4 linked regions of the Homo sapiens genome follow. The protein of the gene in region 2 interacts with the protein of the main gene of each other region in a biochemical or structural test. Each region holds a gene or a part of one and is shown on either strand. Other genes may lie near its edges.

Region 1 (3,566 bases), on a different chromosome or scaffold from region 2:
CAATTCTCCCACCTCAACATCCCAAGTACCTGGGACTATGGATGTGTGCCACCAAGCCTGGCTAATTTTTGTACTGTTTTGTAGAGACAGGGTTTTGTCATGTTGGCCAGGCTGGTCTTGAACTCCTGACCTCAGGTGATCCACCCGCCTCGGCCTCCCAAAGTGCTGGGATTACAGGCATGAGCCACTGTGCCCGGCTTATTTCCTCTTTTAAAACTTACTATTATTATTGTCATTCTCAAACTATTATCTCATAAACGTTATATTGTCTATATCAGATATTCAGTGTGGGCTATGTTTTTTAAATAACAGATGGTATTTGAATATATAAAAGATATAAATCCTTTTCAAAATGTTGCTTTGTCTATTTTTCTGAAAAGTTTGACAACCATCTGTAGAGCTTTTGCAGAAGACTTTTTTCTTCCCTCACTTTTAGTCTCTTTAAAATCAATGACTATTTTTATTCTGCTTGGTCAGGCAAGTAGGCCTTTGATTTACAACAGCTGTATTCCCATGGAACACACACAAACACACATACATATAATTTCATTTTTGCCTTTATAATTCTTTTTTTTAATTATCAAGTAAGAAGACATAGTTTATTGGTCTAAGGATTTTGGAATCATTCAGGTCTTTTAAACGAACATGATGAAGTTACAGAGTGGTTTTGTTACACATCTCATTGCCATAATTTTGTCTAGCTCTGGCTTTAATAATTGTATTTTAACTATTGCTAGCCTGTGTATAATATTTTCCTTTCCTTGACTTCTCCATTTTATTCCTAAATTCAGAAGATTATTGATGTGAATTCTTCAACCACTGGTAATGTATTTGAGCTTAATTCCAGTTGTTTAAAATGCTCTTCAACATTATTATAAAAATGTCATGATGGGAATCTACTGATACACATGAAAATGTCTGTACTTGAGTTCAGCAGTGCTCCAGAGCTAATATTCCCAAGATTTCATAAGGGAAAATATATGTTTACAGGAAAATAAAACTGAACAGCAACCAAGAGTTGGCTCTCAAATATATGACCATTAGTTTCTTTGCTTGTTTGTTTGTTTCTCTTTCCCTATAATATAAGAACAAGGCAATAACAAATATAAAGAAAAAACTTACAGCCATATTACAATTAGATTCCAACAATTAACTTATAATGTATCTGCTTCATATGAAAATGCTAAAATATGTAGGTACTCAAGAAAACTTTTCATTCTGAAGATGACCAGAAATTTTTGTTTGCCAGTTCGACTGACACTGAAAACCTACATTTGCCTATTATTCTCCATGCTTCCATGTAAACTAATAACCACTCAACCACCAAAATGGTGGCCTCTAACAAGGCTGGGTTCTGGTACTGCTGGCTCCTTATTCTACGGCCCACATGTTTATATACTGATAGATGCAAATACATGTAAGATTCTCTAAGGCCAGACATAAGTTCACTTGGCCTATAACAGAGCAGTGACCCTTGAAATGCAAGTACAAACTCCACATTTTTTTAGTTTCATATAAAACATTTCATGCTTCATAGGAAACAATTAATTTCATCTATTAAAAGAAACCAAATGAGAAAACCTCCAACTAAATCTATCACTCATTTAACCTATAAGCCCAGAAAAAAAATTTAGCTTCTTCTTGCCTCGGTTTATCTACATTAGCTCCTGAACGAATACACTGGGGCAGGGAGAAAGTCATTTTCTAGTCTTGTTGCCATACAAACTTGAGTTCTTCTCCCTGAATAACAGGAGTAACAGTCCAATTTTACCAGAACACCAGTTCTGAGAGAATCAACTGAAGGAACAAGGTATCACTTCAGCCACTGTGTCTTTCTAAAAGTTTCTTTCAGGGATGATACCTTAATTTATTTTTCCATTGCCTTTCTCTTTCTCCTAAAACACTAAGCATACACCAGGTTGGATAAATAATTGGCATTCAGTAAATACACTTATTATTATCTTTTTAATCCATAAAGATCTTTCTCTTTTTTTGTGTGGTTTATTTTTTATGACACGGTCTTGCTCTGTCACCTGGGCTGGAGTGCAGTGGCACTCCACACAAACATGGTTCACTGTAGCTTTGACCTCCTGGACTCAAGCCATCCTCTCACCTCGGCCTCCCCCATAACTGGGACCACAGGTGTGTGCCACTGCATCCAGCTAATTTTTAAAAATTTGTTGTAGAGACAGGGTTTCGCCACGTTGCCCCGGATGGCCTCAAGCTCCTGGGCTCAAGCAATCCTCCCACCTCAGCCCCAAAAAGTGCTAGGATTACAGGCACGAGCCACCACACCGAATCTTAAAAATCTTTTTAAGATAAAATCGTTTGATTAATAATTGAGATGTTTTCAACAAAGGTCATTAATATTACAAACTTTTGTAGTTCATTTAGTGTTAAAAGTTTCTGCTACTGTGAACATACACTATTAAATAGTTTTACCATGTAGTGTCCACCCTAAATCTTTTTGGTAAATGAGATGGGTTAAAAATAAATTATGTCAATTTAAGAATTTCAGTCTTCTAGATTCTGATTTAAAAATATTATTTCCTAATCTCCTGGAAAATTACAGTGTATTGATACTGAAAATGAACACATCTCCTGTAACCTTGAAACCAATTACATAACATGTTATTGCTTCTTTTTCCCCCACTATTTCTCCCATGACATCACAACAAGTTCTTGAAAAGCTATTGACTCTTAAAAGCTGCGCTTCGCATTCTTACCTGGCACCCTCTTCGCCCAGTTGATCATGTGAACCAGCTCCCTGTCTGCCAGGTTGGTCAGTAAGCCCATCATCGAAGCTTCACTGAAGGGTCTGGTAGGATCATACTCGGAATAGAGTATCGGGGGCTCAGCATCCAACAAGGCACTGACCATCTGGTCGGCCGTCAGGGACAAGGCCAGGCTGTTCTTCTTAGAGCGTTTGATCATGAGCGGGCTTGGCCAAAGGTTGGCAGCTCTCATGTCTCCAGCAGACCCCACTTCACCCCTGCCCTCCCCATCATCTCTCTGGCGCTTGTGTTTCAACATTCTCCCTCCTCTTCGGTCTTTTCGTATCCCTGAAAACACAGGTGGAAAAAAAAATTAGTTTATTTTTTTCCCGTGTAAACTTTTATACAAAAAATTTTCAAAGCTAACCAGCTTTCATTTTATTTGAAGAAATACTTTCAAGCACAGGTGAGCTGGTAAGTGTTCAACAAGTGGCTCTCCAAGAGAAGAAGAAAAAGATTTCTATTTGTAGCAGTTTTCATGGTGTAAATACTACCACCATAACATGCCAATTTTCATGGTGTAAATACCACCACCATAACAAACTTCAGGCCACTTGTCTGACATCAAATGGCTTACAAAACTCCTGAAAATTGAACAGTAGGCTTTGGTGAGCCCATACAAACTGATTCCGACACACTAGGTAGGGGTGTGTGTGTAACAGGTGTTATAAAAAGAACAGAATTCTAATTTTAGTTATTCTTAAAATAGAATTTAGCATCCAAGACTACTTCTGCTAGGAATATTCTTTTAATAGTAAATTAAAAGGGCATTTTTAAAAGCATTTAGTCCAA
Region 2 (4,259 bases):
GGCATGTCCCTGTTCACTCCAGCTGGCTCTACTCCTCCTGCAGCTGACTAGGGGTGGAGGGGGGAAGGGGACTTGGGTCCCTTGGGAGTCTCTCCCCCTCTTCTTGGGAGAGCCCCCCTGGCTTATTTAGGCCTCCACGCAGCACAGGAAGCCTCTGCAGTGTGCAGGAGCCACTCACATATATCATCCAGGCCGCGTAGCGCTCCTTGAGGTTGAAAAGCACCGCGGGCTCGTGCAGGAAGGTCAGCATGGCCATGTCCTCAATCTTGTCGAACTTGGGTGGGTTCTGCTGCAACACCTGGTCCTCCTTCACAGTCACCGTCTGGAGGGGGCGCATAAGCAGGAGGATGAGTGACCACAATCCCTCCGGGACCCTTGCCAGCACTGCCCACTGACCTCCTCCCAGGACACAGGGACTTGGCCTTGCTCCCCTTGCTCTGACCAGTGCCCCGGCCCCTACCCCGATGTCCCCTGGGACACTTTCCCCAGGTAATTTCCCTTCCCATTGTATCTCCCATCCTAGAGACTGTCCTAGGGTACCTTTCTCTTGCCAGATCCCCAGACCATCCTGGGGACACCCTGTGCCCATGACCATCACTCTTCAGTCCCTATGTTCCAAGGGTCTTGGGGCAGACCTGGAGATTGGCAGCTCTCAGATCTGTGCACACCTTATGCTGACCCCGAGGCTGTCTCCCGCGGGCAGCGCTTTAGGGTATCTGTTGCTCAGGGCAAACCTTCACCCCTGCTGGAAAAGTAGTTCACCCATCTACTCCACACTCCCCATCCATCACTGTTGGTGTGGTTTGATTGGCAGCAGTCAGTTTGCCATGCCCTGATGTCATTAGATCCTGCCAGTAGGTATTCCAGTGTTTTTTATAGTGGAGAAATCCGTGGCTCTAAATGACTAAATGATTTGCCTGCACAGTGACTAGCGGGTGGCAGAGCTGGGATCAGAGTCAAAAGCCCCAGGGGATTGTGGCCTGTTATTCTACACTTCAATGGGTTGTAACATTCAGTCAACGAGTTCATGAGGCACACAGCCCTGAGCCGCAGCTGGTAACCAGGGGTGATTCTCTTGGCTGGTGTGAGCAAACCAGGGACCAGAGCTTCTGAGTGCCAGTCAAGGAGAGTGCTCAGCTCAAAAGTTTCTGATCTTTGTGTTCATCTGGGTCTAAGAATTACTCTTGATTTGGGTGAACGGAATTTGAGAAAGTGGACTCATGGAGGAAACTGAGGCACAGGGAAGAGGGATACAAGTGCAAGAAGGGGGCATCATTTAATGCTGTGTCTGTGCCCTCTTTATCTACAAGACCCCTCTTAGGCGAACACTGAGGTTCTTCTTCCTCAGCATCCTCTCTGGCAGGGGGAACATGGCCCTGGGTGGCACCTGTTGCACCAGCTCAGGTCAATTTGAGAGGGATCAGATTCTGGGCTCCTCAAAGGAGCATGTCCTGGCATCCCCACTGGCCTTGGCTTTTCTCCAGCCCTCTCAGCTCCCCCTGCAAGTGGCTCCACCTCTGCATCTTCTTTCCCAGACCTCCTTCCCTTCTGCCCCGGCGCCATGCCCTACTCACCTTCCCATTCTCGGTTTCAGCAATGACCTTGCCTCCCTCCCGGGACAAAATCTTGGCTTTGACAAACTCTTCCTTGTCATCGGGCACGAAGCACTCAGTGCGAATGTCAAAGGGCCGGGTCTGGGCCTCTAGACGCTCCTTCTCTGACTTGCGGAGGTACTGGGCCGCTGCCCCAAAGTCAGCCATCTGGGCATCGGTCATCTTGGTGCTTCCCCTGGGTCAGAGACAGGAGGGCTATGTTACTCCTGAGGGAGCCCAGGCTCCAGCGAGTGGCTTTGTCCTCTGCAGCCCCCCTCCCTACCCCCGCTCCTCTCCTCCACCCTGGGAGAGGCACCTGCTGTTGCACCCTCCCCTACTCAGGGCTCTGCTTCTCCTGCCCTCTGAGGTGATGCTGAAGGACAATCTCTGTAAGGGGTTTCCCTGGGGTGGCATTGGCTGGAGTATGCTAAGGGTTGGCGCTGAGTGCTTGGGACAGCAGACCCCTGGTCCAGCAATCCGGCTCCCAGGAGAAGCATGCCCCAGTCTCTGCAGAGAAAATGGGGGCAGTTCTCACCTGGTTATCCCTTCACGGAGAATCCTGAAGAATCTGGACCGTGGGTGGAGCAAGGAACAACAGAGGTAGAGCCGGGCAGAGAGAAGAACAGATGAGGAGAGTGAAGAACAACAGAGGCAGGCCACCCGGGGATGGAGGCAGCCCCAGAGCGCAGACAGGCAGGACAGACCAGGGAGTCAGAAAGGGAAAGACGCAGAGGCAGAAAAGAAAGGGCACCGAGTCAATATGAGTGCGAGGGACGGGGTGTGGAAACAGGGTTAGAAGCAGAGAGGCAGGGAGGTGAGAACACGTGCCAAGAAGGAAGGACAAGGGAGAGAGACAAAGAAGCATGATTGTGACAAGTGTCGATGAAGACCAAGAGGCAAGATAAAACCAGGATCAAGGGAAGGAAGCCATCCAAAGGAGGAAGGAAGATGGAAAGATGGAGACAACATGTAGGAGACTCAGAATGATGCAGAGAAAGAAATGGAGAGTCAGAGAAGGAGAAAAGAGGTTTCTGGGTTTCCTGTGGAACCTCCTTGTGTCAGGGGGAACTTCCCTGGGCCTGGAGATAGGCAGTTTTAATAGAGCCCTTAGGCCTCCAACTGACCTGCACCCCACTCCTGGTGAAGGAGGTCCCTCACGGTGGGGGCTCTGTGGACGGGCTGCAGGGCATCCCACCCCAAACCTCCTCTTACCTGGGCCGCAGGAGTCTCTCTATCTGTCCTCAAAGCTCCAGTTCCTTTATATCCCGTTTCCCCCACCCTCTGTCTAAATTTGGAGTCCTTCCGGAGGGACCCTCCCTCCCACCTCTCTCCCCTCCTGGCTCCTCCTCCTTTGATCCTTTGGCTCTGGAGGTGACAGGAGGACAGCAGGGCCCCCTGATTTGCCCAAGAAAGGTCTGCTGCCCCAGCCTCTCTGGCTCCACGGCCTTTTTTTAGTCCTTGGGCACATTCCTCCCCTTCAAAGGGCTGATGAGCAGATAGTGGGAAGACAGGACCTTCTCACACCGCCTCTCCCACCCTGCCATGGCCCTTACCTCAGTTATTTTTAACCCGAAGGGTGAACTGAAAACATGGGTGAGGGTCACCTTCTCCTGCAGGCCAAATGCCTGTCCTCCGCCTCCCAACCATGGGCTTTCCTCCCCTGTTCCCCAGCCTCTCCTTCCCATTCTGACCTCCCTCACACAGTCCCAGGCTGGGAGCATCTTCCTGCTGTTAGTACTGGAGCCCCCAGTGCTAGGGACTAAAAGCTGCAGTATGGTGCCCAGGGAAGGGATCTGTTGTCCATCTCCATGGCTCAGTTTTCTTTTGTCAGGAAATTCTGTCCTGGCCTCAGTCTGCATAAGTGCCATGCCTGGTCTCCTTCTGTTCCCCAAGTCTTCAGACAAGTGTTCTCCCAAGGTCTTGAGGCCACCCTGGTTTGGGGACACGTCTGGAGTCCCCACCCCTTCCCTAATGCTCCTGATAGAGTGGCCAACATCCAACCTGCTCACGCAATGGCAGTGATTCTCCCTGCCGCCTCAGGCAGATTTTCACACAGAACCCCAGTTCAGCACTCTCACATACAGACTTGACCGTGTCTGTGCCCATCTTCAGCCACACATGCAGATTTTTCACACTTACCCACTCAAGCTTGCAGATTTCTTTTCTACTTTCTTTTGTGTACATGGATGCACACATTTGCACATCCGCATTTGCACACATAGGCTTTTGCCCTCCCCTGCTACCCTCTGCTCCTGGGGTGGGGTGGGCAGAAGAAGATGGTGCTAATCCTAGGGCCTGAGAGAGGAGGGGGGTGGGTGAGGGGCTGTCCCCTTCTGCCTCACCGGGCTGCCAGAGGGTGCAGGTGCCTGGCAGGCCTGGGGATTTACACCATCTGGTCCCCAGGCACTGCATTCCATCGGGGTGGGGCTCTGCCACCTGCCCCCTCCCCAGGCAGAATTTTGTTGCCCCTTTCCAAGCCCTCCAGGGCTTATACTCACATTCCCTTCTTTGTGGGTGTCCTCAAGCACCCTAGGCCCTCAAGGCCCCGCTCCCCATCCTCCAATGCTGCCATCTCTCAGAGGCTGTAGGTGTCAGGTCTTCAGCAGGCTGTTCCTGTTATGACTAAGTGGACATTGTGTTCAGGAAACAAAGCCAGACTCCCCTGCT
Region 3 (3,566 bases), on a different chromosome or scaffold from region 2:
AGGGTATGTAAGAGGTCACCCTCAGGAGGCAGCCTCTTTAACATTTGACAGCTGTCATTTTTGTATCTCTTGTATTGAGCCAAACTCTCCTCTCCTATAACTTACCAGGGGGTCCTGAGACCTCTGGAGCCACACAGAATAAATTTCTTTCTTCTTCCAGAAAATTGTTTTCTCTACCAAGTAGCATAAATATTAACCACCACCTCCCATGTCCATCCTTCAAATTTTCACCAGTTTAAACACTCTAGTTCCTTATTTCATTAAATGACAAAATTATGTTTCATTTACTACTGGTAGGTGTGATATTTTAAAAAACTGTTTAAAAGAAAGAGGCATTCTATCCAAGGCCCAAAGTAATAAGTGAGTTCGTCTGAGAGGCTTCTTCAGGATATGTTAGTCTCACCCTAGGGAGATATTAGATGTCTACATTCTAAGTCATAGGTTAGAAAAGCAGTGGTCAGATTGAGCATCTGGAAAAGATTAGGGGCTATCTAGACCAGAGGTCAACAACTATGGCCCACAAGCCAAATCTAGCCTGCCACCTGTTGTATATCCCACAGGTAAGAATAGTTTTTACATCTTTTAATGGTTAAGAACAAATTAAAAGAAGAATATTTTGTGACATGTGAAAGTTGTATGAACTTCAAATCTGTGTTCAAGTTTTATTGAAACATCATGCTCATTCGTTTACATACTGTCAATGGATGGTCCTGCACTACAATGGCAGAGTTGAGTAGTTGCCACAGAGACCACATGGACTGCAAAGCATAAAATCTTTACTATCAGGCCCTTTACAGAAAGAGTCTGCCAACTTCTGGTCTAGATCAAAAGTTTATAATCAATAATGACTGCCCTTGTCTCAAAAAGACTAGATTCTAGTCTCTTGATTGAGTGAAAACAATGGGAGCCATCAGCAAAACATTCCTTAAAATATTACACAAAAAGATAAGAAAAACTATTTCTGTCTAAATTGTTCTCTAGAACCTGGAATCTTGGTTTCCTGGGGCTTAGAACTGGATCAGCTGGCTTGGGGATTTATGCATCCCAGAGTGAAATGGAGCTCTGGGCCTAGAGCAGCAGCAGCAGAGCACAAGACAGAGGCCTGAGTCCATTCCTTCTCTGGGTGGAGCAGATTGTCTGACATGTCATCCCACCAATCACAGGCTTAGAGACACAGTGAAGGCCCTGACTCGGGAACAAGAGAAGCTCCTTGGGCAACTGAAAGAAGTACAAGCAGACAAGGAGCAAAGTGAGGTAAGGGGCTCAGAGTTGATTTGCTTTCTCCATTGTCCAGCCAGTGTTTGATTCCCTCTCGAGAGCCAGACACCAAAGGGAATAAAAATGTAAAGAAGACATTGTGTGCACTCTACTAGGGAACATAAGACATATACCTAAATCAGGATTAGTCAGAGTGGAAAAGTGGAATATAAGAGTGTCACAAGAGAAATTTTTTTTGTTTGTTTTTTGGAGACAGAGTCTTACTTTGTCTCCTGTGCTGAAGTGCAGTGGTACGATCTTAGCTCAGTGCAACCTCTGCCTCCTGGGTTCAAGCAACTCTCACGTCTCAGTTACCTGAGCAGCGGGGATTACAGCCATGTGCCACCATGCCCAGCTAACTTTTGTATTTTTAGTAGAGACAGGGTTTCACCATGTTGGGCAGGCTGGTCTCGAACTCTTGACCTCAAGTGATCCACCCACCTCAGCTTCCCAAATTGCTGGGATTACAGGTGTGAGCCACTGCGCCTGGCCTCAAGAGAAATCTAATAAAGTATTGTGGAGCTCCAGGGAGGTGTATGAGTACACATCTTGTTAGAGACATTAGAAAAGTCTTTTTAAAATGGGTGTGGAGGCCAGGCACAGTGGCTCATGCCTGTAATCCCAGCACTTTGGGAGGCAGAGGCAGGCGGATCCCCTGAGGTCAGTTCAAGACCAGCCTGGCCAACATGGTGAAACCCCATCTCTACTAAAAATACAAAAATTAGCCAGGTGTGGTGTCAGGTGCCTGTAATCCCAGCTACTCAGGAGGCTGAGGCAGGAGAATCACTTGAACCCGGGAGGCAGAAATTGCAGTGAGCCTAGATCACACTACGGCTCTCCAGCCTGGGCAACAGAGTGAGACTCTGTGCCAAAAAAAAAAAAAAAAAAAAAAAAAGGGAGGGCCATGGCTGGGCGTGGTAGCTCACACCTGTGATCATAACACTTTGGGAGGCCAAGGCGAGAGGATTGTTCAAGCCCAGGGGTTCAAAACCAGCCTGGGCAACGTAGTGAGACCCCATCTCTACAAAAAATTTTAAAAATTAGCCAGGCATGGTGGCATGCACCTGTAGTCCCAGCTACTCAGGAAGCTGAGGTGGAAGGATTGCTTGAGCCCAGGAGGTCAAGGCTGCAGTGTGCTGTGATCGCACCCCTGAACTTCAGCCTGGGTGACAGAGCAAGATTCTGTCTCAGAAAAAAAAGGGGTGGGGTGTGGGGCCTAGTACTTTCAAACCTTTTTAGCAGAACCCTTTCCTCTCCTCCCACCAATAAAGTTTTTAATCTTGTGTGGAATCTCACTGAATAAACAAAAACAATGTTTTATTACTATAAATTTATTTTTATAAATTTGAATGTATAACCTTTACTTAAAAGGTAATGAAAGCACTTAGGTAATTTTGAGGCATACCAAACTTTGAAATGAGAGGCTATCGAAGACTGTTCTGCCAGCCTCAGCAACTAATGTATTTCCGTATTTTATTTTGGTTGTACAATATCAAGAACACCTTGAGTCACACACAAGTAGGTGCAAATAACAATTTTTAAACTGTCCACCTTGCAACTCAGTTTACTCTTCAATTCAATAGAAAATACAGTAGAAACTATTCTGAGCTTTGCAAAAAAATGAATTAACCTGGAAACATATGTCAATTGGTGATCTCCAGTGTGTTAACTTGTGATTTTATGGGTTTTATTTGTTTTGTTTGTTTGTTTTGAGACGGAGTTTCATCTTGTTGCCCAGGCTGGAGTGCAGTGGCGCGATCTCGGCTCACTGCAACTTCTGCCTTCCGGGTTCAAGAGATTCTTCTGTCTCAGCCTCCTGAGTAGCTGGGATTACAGGCACCCGCCACCACGCCCAGCTAATTTTTTGTATTTTTAGTAGAGATGGGGTTTCACCATGTTGGCCAGGCTGGTCTGGAACTTCTGACCTCAGGTGATCCGCCCACCTCGGCCTCCCAAATCATGCCGAGATTGCAGGCATGAGCCACTGCACCTGGCCTTGTGTTGTTTTTCTTTTTTTAACATAATTGTTAATAATTTAGAAGACATTCAAATCAAGTATCTGCAGAACTCCTAAATCCCTTCTTCAGTACCCTGGGTTTATGTGGAAGATTGTTAAAAAACCCTTTGCTCAGCAGTGAGAATAGGTAGAATATGAGTAGACAGAGATGAGTGTGAGGCTATTCTAGGAACAGAGAAAGACGTGAGCAAAGGCTTAAAGGCCAGAACACTCAGGGCAGTTGAATGTGCGGGTGAAGTGTTTGAGATAAGGCCTAGGTTAGACTGTGGTGGATCTTGAGCTTCATTTTTAT
Region 4 (3,566 bases), on a different chromosome or scaffold from region 2:
CGTGCCCAGCAGGCCCAGGCTGGGGGTAAAAGTGGCTGGAGACAGTACCTTTTGTCCCTGGAAGACACTCTGCAATGGGGCCACCTCGCAGGCCTTGTGGATCCCAAACACCTTGCACATGGAGCAGGTGGGCACCTCACACGTGAGACAGTAGATGTTGATTTTCTCATCTTCGTGCTCCTTGCACATGGGGTGACTGCCCTTCTGCAGCGGCCGACTGCAGTGGAGAACAGTCACAAGTCATGGGGGTCCTGTGTCCCTGCATCCCCCTCCCCAGCTCCAATGCACCAGTCGCAGCTACTGGGGAGGCTGAGGCAGGAGGATTGCTCAGCCCAGGAATTCGAGGCTGCAGTGTGTCTGTGAATCTCCAGATTTATGCCCTGGGCCCTCAGTGTTTGGCTGCCCTAAAATCTTTCATCTTCTGGGGACCAAGGACTTGGGAAGCCAATGACACCAAATCTGTCCCCACATCCTAAGAGGGAGTTAGCCTGAGGCTCTGCCAGTGCCAAGGACACAGAAAGGGCCATAGAATTCCAGAGTCAGACCTGGAGATGTTTTAGAGAAGAGGAAACTGGGCTCCAGAAAAGTGAATTGACTCGTCCAAGGTCATACAGCAAGTAAGGGCAGAGGAGCCTAGAGTTCAGTTGCTCTAATTATAGTCACCTTAGCTTTGGTTACTGCAGGCTGGGCTCTGAGCTGAGAAATTTATACTGATGGCCTCATTTAATTCTATATTTAATCTACCAGACTGTAACCTCCATCAAGGTAGGGAAACTTGCCTGTTTTCTTCACCCCTGTGCCTACACTGTACAGTGCCTGGCATAGAGGAGGTGGTAATTAAACAAAGGTAGAAAGAATAAATCAATAAGGCTGGGCGCAGTGGCTCACGCCTGTAATCCCAGCACTTTGGGAGGCCGAGGTGGGAGAGTCACCTGAGGTCAGGAGTTCAAGACCAGCTTGACCAATATGATGAAACCCCGTCTCTACTAAAAACTCAAAAAAATTAACCAGGCATGGTGGCATGCACCTGTAATCCCAGCTACTCGGGAGGCTGAGGCAGGAGAATCACTTGAAACCAGGAGGCAGAGGTTGCGGTGAGCCGAGATCGCACCATTGCACTCCAGCCTGGGCAACAAGAGCAAAACTCCGTCTCAAAAAAAAAAAAAAAGAAAGAAAGAAAGAAAGAATAAATTAATAACTAGCATAGGAATCAATAATATTCACCATCTTGAATTTATTAACATTCTCCATAAGAAAACAATTTTTTTAAAAAAGAATATTCACCACAGAGTCAGTCATACCCTCTCTCTTTCTCTTAGCTTCACCACTTTCTAGCTGTATGGCCTTGGATAAACCTCTGACCCTCTCTGAGCCATGAGGTTGCCCCTGAGGCTCAGAGAAGGAGCAGTGTGTATGCCCCATGTCATGGTGACTGGTGAGTGGGTAGCCCAGGGCTGTCCAACAGCCCAGCACAAGCCTGACTTCTAGTCCAGAGATTCTTTCAAAGGCCCAAGTCTCTTCCTCTACTTTCTCCCCTAACACATATGCTTAGAACTACCTTTCTTCCTTGAGACCTCCAACCTGTTATTTGTGCTTCTCTTGGGACATCAGTCATTTCCTAACCTAGATTCATTGGGGCCTGGGGGGGATTTTTTTGTTGTTGTGTTGTTCTGTTTTGATTTTTTGCCCAGGCTGGAGTGCAGTGGTGTGATCTTAGCTCACTGCAAACTCCACCTCCTGAGTTTCTGATGCCTCAGCCTCCTGAGTAGCTGAGATTACAGACGTGCACCACCATGCCCAGCTAATTTTTGTATTTTTTAGTAGAGATGGGGTTTCACCATGTTGGGCAGGCTGGTCTCAAACTCCTGGCCTCATGTGATCCACCCACCTCAGCCTCCCAAAGTGCTGGGATTACAGGCGTGATCCACAGCACCCAGCCTTTGTTTGTTTGTTTGTTTGTTTGTTTGTTTTGAGACAGGGTCTCACCATATTGTCCAGGCTGGAGTGCAGCAGCGATTCACAGATACACTGCAGCCTCGAACTCCTGGGCTGAGCAATCCTCCTACCTCAGTCTCCCCAGTAGCTGCAACTGGTGCATACCACCATGCCTGGTGTAGATTCGATTTTTTGAGTCTTCTGTCTCCGGCTAGACTATACACTCATTGAAAGCCAACACTACCTTCGATTCCCAGCCCCAAACAGAACAGGCATCTTGCAAATGTCAAATGGTGACTGTTCCCATCAGTGTCAATGCCTCACCTCCAAACAGCCTTACATGACTGATCACACCCTGGGCTCTATTGTCCTCTGAAGTTCTTAAATATGCCCCTTTCCAGGCTTGTCTTTTTGCATAGTTTACCCCAGGGTCCCTATGCTGGCAGGGGTCTGCCATTGCCACCTGCCTCCATCCCCTGATAAAGGGATGGCAGGGAGTGCAGAGGTGAGGCAAGAGCCTGAGGGTCTGGTTCATGCGCCCGCAGCCCTCCCAGATGCCCACCCTCCCAAGCTCAGACTTTGGCATCGGGGTTCATATCCAGATTGTTCTCTTACATTCATTTTTGTGATTTTGGACTAGTGATTTCACCTCTCTTGCCTGTGGGATTCCTCCCAGAACTACTGCAATCTGTCTGTAGAAATTGTCTATAATGAATGTAGAGTGCCCGGCACAGAGCAGACCCTCAATAGAGGGCAGCTGTCATTGTCATTCAACTATGCGGAAAGGCCTCAAAGGTTCACATATAACATGCTCTTCATAGGTCGGCACTGGGTAGGCTAACATTGGTGTGGAATTGATTTTATTATTCCTTATGATCAACAATATGTTTGCATTTTGTAGTGTTGTGCTCTAGCAACATGAGAGGCAATCTAGCTCAGCAATTAAGAATATTCACCGGCCGGCCAGGCGCGGTGGCCCACGCCTGTAATGCCAGAACTTTGGGAGGCCAAGGCGGGCGCATTACCTGAGGTCAGAAGTTCAAGACCAGCCCGGCCAACGTGGTGAAACCCTGTCTCTACAAAAAATACAAAAATTAGCTGGGTGTGGTGGTGCACGTCTGTAATCCCAGCACTTTGGGAGGCTGAGGCGGGCAGATCACCTGAGGTCAGGAGTTTGAGACCAGCCTGGCCAACATGGTGAAACCCTGTCTCTACTAAAAATATAATAATTAGCTGGGCACGTTGGCACGCATCTGTAGTCCCTGCTACTCGGGAAGCTGAGGCTGGGGAATCACTTGAACCGAGGAGGTGGAGGTTGCAGTGAGCCAAGATCGTACCACTGCCCTCTAGCCTGGGCAACAGACCAAGACTCTGCCTCAAAAAAAAAAATTAAAAAAATAAAAAATATTCTCACACCCTCTCTCTCTTAGCTCTACCACTTGCTAGCTGTGTGGGCTTGGACAAATCTCTGATCCTCTCTGAGCTTCCATTTCCTCATGGTAAAATGGAGACAGGAATGCCTTCCCGGGTTACTATGAGAAGCAGATAGGAAAAATGCCTGAAAGTACTTAGAACAGCGCCTGCACACAATAGGTACCCAATAAATGGTTGATACATTAACCATTTTCCAT

Evidence for each region.
Region 1: the proteins of MYH6 (region 2) and ESR1 form a complex in vitro, tested with the Homo sapiens proteins (one study listed by BioGRID).
Region 3: the proteins of MYH6 (region 2) and CALCOCO1 form a complex in vitro, tested with the Homo sapiens proteins (one study listed by BioGRID).
Region 4: of the proteins of MYH6 (region 2) and TRIM63, one has a biochemical effect on the other in vitro, tested with the Homo sapiens proteins (one study listed by BioGRID).

What each region holds. Positions count from the first base shown.
Region 1 is NC_000006.12:151,943,669-151,947,234, reverse strand, and holds part of ESR1 (estrogen receptor), read right to left. Parts: intron 3,063-3,566; coding exon 2,727-3,062; intron 1-2,726.
Region 2 is NC_000014.9:23,405,449-23,409,707, forward strand, and holds the start of MYH6 (myosin-6), read right to left. Parts: upstream 2,826-4,259; 5' UTR 2,805-2,825; intron 2,161-2,804; 5' UTR 2,128-2,160; intron 1,789-2,127; 5' UTR 1,776-1,788; coding exon 1,575-1,775; intron 323-1,574; coding exon 179-322; intron 1-178. UniProt on the Homo sapiens protein: Muscle contraction.
Region 3 is NC_000012.12:53,717,427-53,720,992, reverse strand, and holds part of CALCOCO1 (calcium-binding and coiled-coil domain-containing protein 1), read left to right. Parts: intron 1-1,163; coding exon 1,164-1,254; intron 1,255-3,566. UniProt on the Homo sapiens protein: Functions as a coactivator for aryl hydrocarbon and nuclear receptors (NR). Recruited to promoters through its contact with the N-terminal basic helix-loop-helix-Per-Arnt-Sim (PAS) domain of transcription factors or coactivators, such as NCOA2.
Region 4 is NC_000001.11:26,061,118-26,064,683, forward strand, and holds part of TRIM63 (E3 ubiquitin-protein ligase TRIM63), read right to left. Parts: intron 218-3,566; coding exon 49-217; intron 1-48. UniProt on the Homo sapiens protein: E3 ubiquitin ligase. Mediates the ubiquitination and subsequent proteasomal degradation of CKM, GMEB1 and HIBADH.